Linked DNA regions of Homo sapiens. The protein of the gene in region 1 interacts with the protein of each later gene in a pairwise test. Each region holds a gene or a part of one and is shown on either strand. Other genes may lie near its edges.

Region 1 (6,007 bases):
AATGCAGGCTGTCTACTGATGAATGCTCGGGAGGAGCAGGAAACAAGCCACCTCCATGTGAAAATGCAGGCTGTCTACTGATGAATGCTCGGGAGGAGCAGGAAACAAGCCACCTCCATGTGAAAATGCAGGCTGTCTACTGATGAATGCTCGGGAGGAGCAGGAAACAAGCCACCTCCATGTGAAAATGCAGGCTGTCTACTGATGAATGCTCGGGAGGAGCAGGAAACAAGCCACCTCCATGTGAAAATGCAGGCTGTCTACTGATGAATGCTCAGGAGGAGCAGGAAACAAGCCACCTCCATGTAAAAATGCAGACTGTCTACTGATGAATGCTTGTGAGGGAACTTCCGGAGGATGTTTTCAGGAAGAAGGAAGCTGAGCCCGGAAGGAAGAAGTATGGTGTAAGCAAGAACCACGCCTAGAGTTGTTGGTGGATGTGTGGCAAGTTTAAGCAAATACTGACTATAAATAAACAATGATGAGCAATGTGAGAGGAGCTAAGACGCTGGAGAAACTCCCACAGCTGACACCGGAGGGGCTGGGCAGGGGAAGAAGCTGTCCCCAGCTCCCTGCACAACTCTCAGCAGGGGAGGAATAGAGGGCCATCACGTGTAGACAACATTTGTTTAAAAATACACATGAAATGCATAAGGTTGCTGCTAAAAACAGGAATAGTGTATATAACTTCTAAGTCAGTCAAAGCAAAACAAAATAAAAACAAAAACAGAACCTTAAAAACTCCATCTAAAAGAAGAGGGGAAGGAAGCACTACCACAGGATGGTGAAATGCAAAGGGTGGTGGGAAGCAGCCCACGTATGTCAGAAATCACAGCAAACCCCACAGGCTTAGCTCATCGGGTAAAGAACAGAGACCCCAAAATATGGGAGCTTTTAAAGCAGCCCCACAGTAGTTACCTCACCCAGAAGCTTGCAGAAAGGCTGAAAGAAGCTGAATGAAAATGACTGCAGAAAAGGGAGGGAGGGAGGGAGGGAAGGAAGGAGGGACAGATAGAAAGCCCAGATGGCAGTGACTCTCTATCGCACGCCTCCTGGCCTGACAGTCCACGTCCAGCAGACAGTCACGCACCCCAGCACCCGCATGTTTAGAAAGTGCAAAAAGAACAATGGAGAAAATAAAGATATGAGCAGAACTAAATAAAAATGTTTAACACATACAACAAACAGAATCAACAAAATCAAAAGCTGGTCTTTCAAAAGACAAAGAAAATCAACAATATTTAGCAAAACCAATGAGGAAAAAAAGGGTCGGGCAGGAGAAAGAGCATGTATAACCTGAAGCAGGGATGAAAAACGGCAAATAGGCTGGGCACGGTGGCTCACGCCTGTAATCCCAGCACCGTGGGAGGCCAAGGCAGGTGGATCACCTGAAGCCAGGAGTTCGAGACCAGGCTGGCCAACATGGCAAAACCCTATCTCTACTAAAAATACAAAAATTAGCCAGGCATGATAGCAGGTGCCTATAATCCCAGCTACTCGGGAGGCTAAGGCAGGAGAATTACTTGAACCCGGGAGGCAGAGGTTGTGGTGAGCCGAGATCACACCACTGTACTCCAGCCTGGGTGACAGAGTGAGACCCTGCCATAAAAAAAAAAGAAAGAAAAGAAAGCAAATAATGACAAATTTAGCAGCTATTAAAAATAACAGGCTACTAAGCCAGGCGTGGTGGCACACGGTAGGGATTTGTAGTAGTCAAATGTGGTAGTCTGTAGTAGTCCCAGCTACTTCAGAGGCTGAGGACCACTTGAGGCCAGGCGTGAGTTCGAGACTGCAGTGAGCTATGATGGTGCCTGTGAACGGCCACTGCACCCCAGCCTGGACAACATAGCAAGATCCCATCTTCAAAAACAGAGGCAACTATGAAAAGTACATCCCAATAAATTTGAAAAACTTAGAATAAATGACATCTATGTTAAGAAGAAACACAGGAGGATGAGGCAGGAGAATTGCTTGAACTCGGAGGCAGAGGTTGCAGTGAGCCGAGATCACACCACTGCACTCCAGCCTGCGCAACAGAGCGAGACTCTGTCTCAAAAAAAAAAAAAAAAAAAAGAAGAAGAAGAAGAAGAAGAAACAAAAGGCTGGGCGCTGTGGCTCTCGCCTGTAATCCCAGCACTTTGGGAGGCTGAGGCAGGTGGATCATGAGGTCAGGAGACCAGCCTGGCCAACACGGTGAAACCCTGTCTCTACTAAAAATACAAAAATTAGCTGGGTGTGGTGGCACGTGCCTGTAATCCCAGGGGAGACTGAAGCAGGAGAATTGCTCAAACCAGGGAGTCAGAGGCTGCAGTGAGCCGAGACCATGCCACTGCACTCCAGCCTGGCAACAGAGCAAGACTCCATCTCAAAATAAAAGAATCCAGAAAATTCAAAGAACTTCAGACACCAATAAAAATAATAATGATCTTGGCCAGGTGTGGTGGCTCACACCTGTAATCCCAGCACTCTGGGAGGCCGAGGTGGGTGGATCACTTGAGGTCAGGAGTTCAAGACCAGCCTGACCAACATGGTGAAACCTTGACTCTACTAAAAATACAAAAATTAGCCAGGTGTGGTAGCACATGCCCGTAATCCCAGATACTCGGGAGGCTGAGGCAGGAGAATTGCTCGAGCATGGAAAGCGGAGGTTGCAGTGAGCCGAAATCGCACCATTGCGCTACAGCCTGGGAGACAGAGCAAGACTCTCCATCTCAAAAATTAATAATAATAACTATCTCAATTTTGTAAAGTGGGCCAAGGACGTGAAATTAACGAGACTCTAATGACAGGTGACCATATGGAAAGAGGCACAGCATGGCTAGTAACCAGGAAGAGGGAATATTAAACCACAGTGTGTAACACTGTGTTACACACCCACATGAAGGGTGTAAGTTGACAGTTGCAAGTTTTGGTGGGGGTGCCAGGAAACAGGAGCTCTCTGGCAATGCTGGTTGGACAGCAGCTGGCTGGGGGGATCCCTTGGGAAGACAGCTTGGTAACAAGAACCTCCTGACTTTCAGGCACCCACACCTGCAGGAGGGGTTTTGGGCAAGAAAGTTGCAGCTTGCTTGAAATAGCAACAAAAAGGAAACAAAAGGTCCATCAACAAGTAAATGGATAAGTCAATGTATATTTAGAAATCAGAGAAAACAAATAAATTAAAACCATATGTATCCCTAGAGAAAATCTCTTTAGCCTAACACCTATTTTTTTCAAAAGCAATTTACAGAAAGAGAAATACAGTGTAATACCCATTACATAAAGTTTTCAGCATGTAAAATTTTTTTTTCTTTTTTCTTTTCTTTTTTTTTTTTTTTTTTTGAGATAGAGTCTCACTCTGTTGCCCAGGCTGGAGTGCAATGGCGTGATTTCAGCTCACTGCAACCACTGCCTCCCAGGTTCAAGCGATTCTCCTGCCTCAGCCTCCCGAATAGCTGGGATTACAGGCACATGCCACCATACCTGGTTAATTTTTGTATTTTTAGTAAAGACGAGGTTTCACCATGTTAGTGAGGCTGGTCTCAAACTCCTGGACTCAAATGATCCGCCCACCTCAGCCTCCCAAAGTGCTGAAATTACAGGTGTGAGCCACCGCGCCTGGCCACAAAACATTTTTAAAGGAACATACATATTAAGTAGGAGTGTGAGGACCTTCATGAGAGTGGTGAATTCCAAATTCAAGAAATTATTAGGGTGGGACAGAAACAATATGGAGAGATGGAGGAACAGAGACTTCATTTATTTATGCCATTTTTTCCCAAGTTGAGTAGGGTTTTTTTTTACATTTTTTAAATATATTACTCTTTATACCATCGTTCAACTAAAATAGATCACTTTTTTTTTTTTTTTGAGACAGAGTCCCGCTCTGTTGCCCACACTAGAGTGCAGTGGTGTGATCTCTGCTCACTGCAACCTTCACCTCTGGGTTCAAGCCATTCTCCTGCCTCAGCCTCCCAAGTAGCTGGAGTTACAAGCATGCACCACCATGCCTGGCTAATTTTTGTATTTTTAGTAGAGATGGGGTTTTGCCATGTTGGGCAGGCTGGTCTCCAACTCCTGACCTCAAATGATCCACCTGCCTCGGCCTCCCAAAGTGCTGGGATTACAGATGTGAGCCACCACACCCAGTTAATTTTTGTGTTTTTAGTAGACACGAGATTTCACCATTTTGGCCAGGCTGGTCTCCAACCCCTCACCTCAAGTGATCCACCTGCCTAGGCCTCCCAAAGTGCTGAGATTACAGGTGTGAGCCACCATGCCCAGCCTAAAATAGATGCTTTTGTAAATCCAGTGTGACTCTGGAGTCAACAGGGAGAGGCTAGACCCTTGGGGGCCTCCATTAAGTCTGGACACAGATTCAGCAAGAGAGCAGCAGCCCACTGAGCAGCCCATACACCAAGGGGCGGATTTCTAGAGGAAACAAGAAAAAGGGGCCCTAAAAATGGCACAAACAGGAACCAGGAAATGTGTGCCCAGCCTCACACATGACCCTGGGCAGGGATATAAAGGGTCCAGGCTCAGGGAGCTCCACACCTGCACCTCCCTCTCACCTGCTCCTCTACCTGCTCCACCCTCAATCCACCAGAACCATGGGCTGTTGCGGCTGCTCCGGAGGCTGTGGCTCCAGCTGTGGGGGCTGTGGCTCCGGCTGTGGGGGCTGTGGCTCCGGCTGTGGGGGCTGTGGCTCTGGCTGTGGAGGTTCTGGCTCCAGCTGCTGTGTGCCCGTCTGCTGCTGCAAGCCCGTGTGCTGCCGTGTGCCAACCTGTTCCTGCTCCAGCTGTGGCAAAGGGGGCTGTGGCTCTTCTGGGGGCTCCAAGGGGGGCTGTGGCTCCTGTGGAGGCTGCAAGGGGGGCTGTGGCTCTTGTGGGGGATCCAAGGGGGGTTGTGGCTCCTGTGGGGGCTCCAAGGGGGGCTGTGGCTCTTGTGGGGGATCCAAGGGTGGCTGTGGTTCCGGCTGTGGGGGATGTGGCTCCAGCTGCTGTGTGCCTGTCTGCTGCTGCAAGCCCATGTGCTGCTGTGTGCCAGCTTGTTCCTGCTCCAGCTGTGGCAAAGGGGGCTGTGGCTCCTGTGGGTGCTCCAAGGGGGCCTGTGGTTCTTGTGGGGGCTCCAAGGGGGGCTGTGGCTCCTGTGGAGGCTGCAAGGGGGGCTGCGGTTCTTGTGGGGGATCCAAGGGGGGTTGTGGCTCCGGCTGTGGGGGCTGTGGCTCCGGCTGCGGTGTGCCCGTGTGTTGCTGTTCCTGTTCCAGTTGTGGCTCTTGCGCGGGGTCTAAGGGAGGCTGCGGGTCATCCTGCTCCCAGTGCAGTTGCTGTAAGCCCTGCTGCTGTTCCTCAGGCTGTGGGTCATCCTGTTGCCAATCCAGCTGCTGCAAGCCCTGCTGCTCCCAGTCCAGTTGCTGTGTCCCCGTGTGCTGCCAGTGCAAGATCTGATTTCTGGCTTTGCAGGACTCTTACCATGGCCAGGCATTCCTGCCCAGCCTTTACCTCCTTTTCCTGGCACCCAGTGAGCCAGACTCTCCTTCCCCACCCACTACCCTATCTCCCACCCTCCTGCCTTGCCAAGCATGAACACTTCTCTTTGACCTTCTACCAAGAAATGCCATGGGCCCATGCATCCAAGAAGAATGACTTTCAAGGCCTCCCTTCCAGGCATCTGGAGACCAGCCCCCCACCGCCCCAGCCACCTGCAGCAAATGCCTATCCGCAAGCCCTGCCTGCTGGCACCACATCCAGCACGGACAGCCCTGCAGGACAGCCCAGGGTGCTTGCTCACTCTGCAGTCACTAGGAGTTCAGATCTCTGTCCTTTAAACATCCAATAAACCGCTCACCCCAGCACCCCATAGCTGTCTTGGTATATTTATGTTTATTTCCCTCTCGAGGCAGGTGGGGGGCATCTGTGGCTACACTGGGTCCCCTGGGAACCACACACACACACACACACACACACACACACACACACACCGGCCCTGAACCAAACCGGAGCAGGCAGGTGGGCGCCCTGGCCAGCAG
Region 2 (7,029 bases), on another chromosome or scaffold:
TCTGGGTGTATCTGTGGACTTTGTGGGAGTAGCCATGTGGGACTCTATAGACCAAGGAGGAAAGCTTGCCTCTCTGCCTCCTTCTACTCCATTCATTTCTTCTCATCTAGAAGCAGGGAAATATGTCAGCCTCTCTGGGGCTTTCAGTTTGCCATACCTGGCTTCTCAGGACCACGCATTTGTCTTACTCACCTATGGTGAGTGTGCTTTCTTGGTGGGTCCAGCATTGCTGGTGTGCTCACCTCTGCTACTTTATGTTTAAGATTCAGAGAATCCACTTTGTCTGGTAATGATCTCTCTTCTTTCCACCAAAGTCATTCTTTAGAAATGGCACCATGAGGCCCTCTGTGTCTCTCATTGTGACTTTCTGATGGCTTTGCACAACTTCCTGGTTATTGCTCAGACCCTCTCACCTCCAGTCAACAATGGCATTCTTAAGTGTGTCCAATGCGCTCTTAATTTGGATGCAGGTCAATTTCTTCCTTGAAGAAGGAGGTACATTGAATGCCACACCGTGCCCATTTTCCTTTTTATTTCTGTGAATGACTGAGATGAGGGAATGATCTCTAGTATAAATGGTTTTTATTACACATAATTCTGTTTTCAAAGAGCAAACAGGCGTGATCACAATTACTCAACTTTATCATGGTTGTCATTATATGAATTTTGATGGACTGATCCATAAGCCCATACCTAGGTGATTTCTTTAAAGGCAGAGAGAAGAACAATATTGCCTGGGACCCCTTTCCCAGAAGTTTTTGGTTAGAGCCAAAGTATTCATTCCCATGTTGACTAAATCATATTTTGCTCACACTTAGAATGTTGAAGTCACATTACCATCCTTCTCAGACTTCTCTTACTGCCAATACCTAACGCTCCCCTAAGGTCATACGCACGACTTCGTTAAAGGTACCGTTGTCTCCACATTCAAGAGATGAGGAAACTGAAGTTTTGAGAGACTCTGAAGGGCACCTGGTCACTAAGCAGATCCGAATATTTCTCAAGTCATCCTGCCATTATTTTTCTTTCTTCGTGGGAGTTCCCTGCACTGTTTTTTGCACTGTCTTCAGGAACTTTACAATTCCACACTGCCGTTTCACCTCTCAGACTGTAGTTGACTTTCATCCTGAATCCTCATCTTCTCACAGAGGGTCTGGCACCTGGTAAATGCCTCTTATTGGTCTTGTGGAATGCATGACCACAGACCTGAAACAGTTATTTCCCACTCCTATTTGTGTTTATTTGCTTTGAAAGAGAAGAAAGGTGATAAGAAAACAATATTTAGCCATGTGTAATTTTTTTAAAGTTTCATTAGCAAGTTCATGAGATGATTTAATATTGATTTTGCTGAAACAGCCAAAATAAAAATGCTATTCCATTTCTGAGCAGTTGTGGTTTGGAATGCGTACCTCATCCTGTTTTGATATAGTTCTCACTCAGCCTTGGATCTTCAAGGGAATTACTGTGATTTTTTTTCCTTTCTTCTTCCATTGCAAATGCCTTGAGTCCATTTCATGCTCTGGGAGGGCTTCTACTGCATTCCCCAGTAGAAGACGGACCACGAAGGTGGTTAAGGAGGAGAGAACTAAACATAATCAAAATTTTCCAACTTAGAAGCCCATTTACATGGCGTCTAAAAACCCAAACATCTGGAAGAATCACTTTAATTTTGCTGTGAAATCAAGACCGTAAATAACACTATAAGCAATTGCAGTCCCTAACAAGACCATGCAGCCAATGGGCATGGATGTAACGTCAGTTGCAATGGCTCAGAACCGAACAGATTTCTCAGTAATTCTATATCAAAATAAGCCTTCTTGCCAATCCAGGATCTTAGAATGGGGATTGTTATTAAGATTGTCAGCAGAACATTGGTTTGGAGGTCAAGGGTAACATTTATATATTTTTGAATTAGAAGATAAACTGGGCCGGGCGCAGTGGCTCACGCCTGTAATCCCAACACTTTGGGAAGCCAAGGCGGGTGGATCATCTGAGGTCAGGAGTTCAAGACCAGCCTGACCAACATGGTGAAACCCCATCTTTACTAAAAATACAAAAATTCTCTGGGTGTGGTGACACGCACCTGTAGTCCCAGCTACTTGGGAGGCTGAGACAGGGGAATTCATTGAACCCAGGAGGCAGAGGTTGCAGTGAGCCGAGATCCTGCCATTGTACTCCAGCCTGGGTGACAGAGTGAGACTCTGTCTCAAAAACAAACAAAAACAAAAGATAAACTGTTCTACACATACAACACACAAACTTAGAATGATGAATTTCCAGTAGGATTTTGAAGTTAGAGGAGAAAATTAAAGAAATAGTCTTTAGAACTGCCAGCCCTTATGTTTCTCCAATTGATGGCATTGAGTAATAGAGCAAGATCCCAGCATTAGTCATTGTGTGTCTGTAACATATGTACAACAGTTAATATATTGGATATTTAACTGTAGCTCACAAGAGGGAAGATTTATAATATGAATTAATATTTTTGTTGATTCCTAATTTCCTATGGGCTAAAAAGAAATTGCTCTGAAAGTGAAAATAACAGACATTCTTATGTGGTTTTGCAGTTCCAGGCCAGACATCAAATAGCAAAGATTGTAATAAAACAAATAAAGAGAACCAAGTAAAATATGAAATCACATTTATATGTTTAGGGTTAAAAAATTACAAATGAAAATTTTATAATATCTGGCTTAATTTAACTAGATTTTTCAACACAGAGAGTCTCAGAATGACTTCTTTTTGATGAACCACGATTTTATTTTGATTTTTATTATGTATGACATAATGTGGCATATCCACCAATTAAACTGTCACTTAAGAGAAGGCAAATGTCAATATAGCATGTCCAGGCTACGTTCTCCTTCAGCACATATCTCTGCCCACTTTACGGTCTTCTTCCCCGTGGTCATCTATTTGTTTTCTTTTTTGAGACAGGGTCTTGCTCTGTCCCATAGGCTGGAGTGCAGTGGTGCACTCTTGGCTCACTGTAACCTCTGCCTCCTGGGCTCAAGCGATTCCCCTGCCTCAGCCTCCTGAGGAGCTGGGACTATAGGCACACGCTACAACGCCTGGCTAATTTTTTGTATTTTTTTTTTTAGAAATGAGGTTTTGCCATGCTGTCCAGGCTGGTCTCGAACTCCTGAGCTCAGGTGATCCACTCACTGTGGCTGGTCATCGATTTTCTTTCTCTTTTATGCTTCTGCCCAAATTAGAAGAAACTTCCTTTGCTTCTCCTTTTACCAAGATACTGACCGTGGATGCTGCTATTTCTATTTTAGCACCAGCTGAGACTCCCTGAAGGGTTTTCTAGTTTCTGTTCCTCACACTCCTTCCTTCTGCTAAAGTGTGGGTGCCCTGGGCCCTGCCCTAGAGCCAGCTGCATCATCTCTCACTGTTCCTATCCCTGCCCTAGCCCCCAGCCGAGGGCAGACATTTTTGGGGGGAAAGGGGTAGGCAAACTCTTAACATTTGAGGTTCTTAGAAAAGAGTCTTCCAATAATAACAAAGTTTCTGAAGGTGGAAGAGTTGTAGGTAAACACGATGGCCTGTGGTGTGTTTGATCAGGGGTTCAGAGCCCTTGAGTGCAGGTCACCATTAGGCCCATCTCATTTTGGATACCGAGTCTGCTGGATTTTAGTCACTTCTTAAAGGACAAGTTCACCAGTTTGTTGGCAAAAAAAAAAAAAAAAATGCTGTGGTATGTAAGTTGACCTTGCCTGCGTCAGGGTGTTTTGTTTATCTCTTACTCTGTTCAGTGATCAGTGAAGGCGCTAGAATCAAATAAATCCACCCTGCATACCAGCTGGGTGTCACCATGGACATTTGATTTCTTCTTGGGATTAGGGACATTGACTCCTGAAGGCTTTCCCTGCCCAGGTCAGGGTTGTCCCATGTATCAGCCCACAGTGGACCAGGAAGATGGTAGGCATTCTCCCACATCAGGCCCAAACCGACCTGCGATTTGTGACTAGGATTAGTGGTGAGTTGATGATATTGAGGGCTGAGTTGTGAAGGAGCAAAATCCTCCCACAGAAGAGACTCTTTCAAATTCTCTGCCATGAAAGCAACATTGTGCTGGACTTGAGCAGCCCTCCTGGTGGTGACCTGGGCTTTCAGGAGCAAAGCAGAAGGTGTGGAACCACTCCCAGGAGGCTGGGGAGGAGGATGGCACTGGGGAGGAGGATGGCGCTGGGGAGGAGGATGGAGATGGGGAGGAGGATGGCAATGGGGAGAATGGAGATGGGGAGGAGGATGGCAATGGGGAGGACGATGATGGGGAGAAGGATGAGGATGGGGAGGAGGACGGAGATGGCAAGGAAGATGGGGATGAGGAGGAGGACGGGGATGGTGAGGATGGTGATGGGGAGGAGGATGAGGATGGGGAGGAGGACGGAGATGGGGAGGAGGACAGAACTGGGGAGGAGGATGGTGATGGGGAGGACGATGATGGGGAGGAGGATGGTGATGGGGAGGATGGTGATGGGGAGGAGGATGGTGCTGGCTACCCTGTCTCCACTGAGGCAATGAGGCTTATGCACATCTTTTGCTAAACTCCCTCTTCCTACCATAAGCCTTGCGATACATATTTACGTTTTAAAGTAAAGTACTAATTAACATATTCGTAGCACTTTGAGCAAGGATGGAAACGTGTTGTTGGAGTGAGTAGACTAATAATTCTAATGTCTTTGGGCACGTTTTCAGTTTTAGAATGGTAGGGTTGATATTACCTCAATGGGGTCCCTGTGTTGGGCAGACACATATCACCAAATATTTTCCAATTTTACTATTTTATGATGCCCTGCTTGCATTTGGTGTTGTGGGTCTAATGTGCCACTCAAAATCTAACCCCCATGTTCAGTTTTTTTACACCTAATTACCTGGTTTTTTCTTTCTTCGCTCACATGGAACCACATTTGTGGCCCATCGCCCATCTTCAGAAGTGAACGCAGACCTGCCTGTGGCTCCCTGTGTCCAGCTTCTGTTGTCTGATTCCCAGTGTCTGTGCAGATTGATCCGTCTTCACATGAATCCACCCACACGCTTGCCCCCTTATTCCTCTGCCATGGCGTTTCTTATAACGTTGAGAAAAAAATGTAAATCTGAAGTCGTATCTCAGAACCATGTGTACAAACTTTCCTCACATTTATAGCGGTCACTGTAATATTCTTCCTGACATTAGCAATCGAATTGAGGGAAAATGACTTCATAAAATATAGTCACCTTTTAAATAAGAGAATTACTTTTAGATAGGAGATAGAAATTTCAAATAACAAAGGAAATTCCATATGTGCTTATAATTTTAAAAATAATTTGAGAGATCTGGATGAAAAAGAATCAGGCCAACTTTAGGGTATATTTTTGGTTTTGGTTGTATATTAATTCATGCCACATGGGATGTGGGTCTATGTAATCAAGAATTTTTTTAAGTACAATTAAAACTAACCTAAAATGTACCTTGGAAAAAAGAAGTTAGTATCCTTTCATTTTGCGGTGGCTGGCAGCTTGGGACTGTCAGATAAACCGTGCATGGCCATTCTTTGGCATTAAGATTCTGGGCTGTCCAGCTCCCTGTGTGTGACAAGCACTTCTGGACCCTCTAGAAGGTTTCATTACCTTTAATGAAGCATAAAATAAACACGTGCTTTTCTGTCATCCCTTCATTTCAAAGGACAATTGAGTTAAATTTTGTAACATACATATCTTTAGAGGGACAGTCATATTCTTCACTGTGAAATGGCCGCATCAAAGAAGAAGCAGTTAGCAGCCTATCAAATCCCATTCCGACCCTGGTCAGGACTGTGCCCTGTGGTCCTACATTCCCAAGGACAGTGAGTTTCAATCAGGATCCTGTCATTGCTGCTTCCTTGAGATGTGCTTATCTATCAGGAGGAGGAGGAGAAAGAGAAGAGAGAGAAGAGAAAAAAGAAAAGGAAGGAGAGAGAAAAGATGAAGGTAGCTTTTACTGGTGAATCAATCTGGATAATATGACATTACGGCCCTTTCAAAGACAGTCTAGGCCTCTGTCTTTGGAATACAAATGTACATAAAGTTTTGAACACTGAGCAAGAAAGATAATGTGAGCATTCTGGTGGCCTGCTGTCATGCCAGTCACCATAGAGCGAAATTTGTTCTAAGGAGAATTCCTCTTGGATCCTATATAAGAAGTTGTCAACTAGGAATGCTGAAAGGGTTTGTGTTTGAATGAAGGCTGAGAGTTGTGTAATCTTTAAACATTTATCTCTTAATGAATCAACAGGAACGGACATCATCTATTTTCCAGGGCCCCTTATTTAAGTATTTAAACAAGATGCTTAGGTTGTCAGCAGATGGGTCCCCTTCCCAGCCAGTCCTTCTCTTCCCTGTTCCTCTACCCCTTTCTTCTCAGGCCCTGGGTTCTCTCTTCCAGTATTTGGGGTGTTTGTGTAGACTAAATGAGATATTCATGTTGAAGTGCTGGATGCATGTAGTAGATGCTGCTTCCCCAGGATGTAAAAGAATGATCTCGGGCCCTGACACTTTCAGTTCCTTTTCTCCACCGGGTTCTGTTTGGAGCTTTGGTTCATTGATATCCTTTTAAGAATGTGGTCCCAACACCAGATATGGTCTTGCACAAGCATTTGGTCACTTAAACCCGAACGTGACCTTGTGAGGTGGCACTAGTTGGTGATCAGATAATAATCCTAAGTGTCTCCAAATTTAAGATTCTGCTAAACCAGTTTCCACCACTCATTGTTTTTTGAATTTTTTGGCACCCCCACATGATACTTTACGTATTATTTTTATTCAAACTAGATTTTCATCTTGATTCCATTATCCTAGGTTGGAAATACAGCCACCAGTTGATGCAAATGTGTTACAGGATCCTGTTTCTTCCCGTGAATGGGTTGGCCTTAATTCTCCCAAGCAATGGGTGTGGCTAGAGCTCACTCCCTCAGGCTACCTTTCCATTTGCTGCACTGATTTATTCCCCAGGGGAAAGCCCAGGAGAGCTGAATACTGAGCTTTCCCTCCCTCCCTCGGGTCGCC

The links. The genes of interacting proteins can lie anywhere in the genome.
Region 2: the proteins of KRTAP5-1 (region 1) and SMOC2 interact in binary tests that used the Homo sapiens proteins (3 or more experiments, as listed by UniProt).

The regions. Positions count from the first base shown.
Region 1 is NC_000011.10:1,583,832-1,589,838, reverse strand, and holds KRTAP5-1 (keratin-associated protein 5-1), read left to right. Parts: upstream 1-4,555; 5' UTR 4,556-4,589; coding exon 4,590-5,426; 3' UTR 5,427-5,497; downstream 5,498-6,007. UniProt on the Homo sapiens protein: In the hair cortex, hair keratin intermediate filaments are embedded in an interfilamentous matrix, consisting of hair keratin-associated protein (KRTAP), which are essential for the formation of a rigid and resistant hair shaft through their extensive disulfide bond cross-linking with abundant cysteine residues of hair keratins.
Region 2 is NC_000006.12:168,444,155-168,451,183, forward strand, and holds part of SMOC2 (SPARC-related modular calcium-binding protein 2 isoform 2 precursor), read left to right. Parts: intron 1-7,029. UniProt on the Homo sapiens protein: Promotes matrix assembly and cell adhesiveness. Can stimulate endothelial cell proliferation, migration, as well as angiogenesis.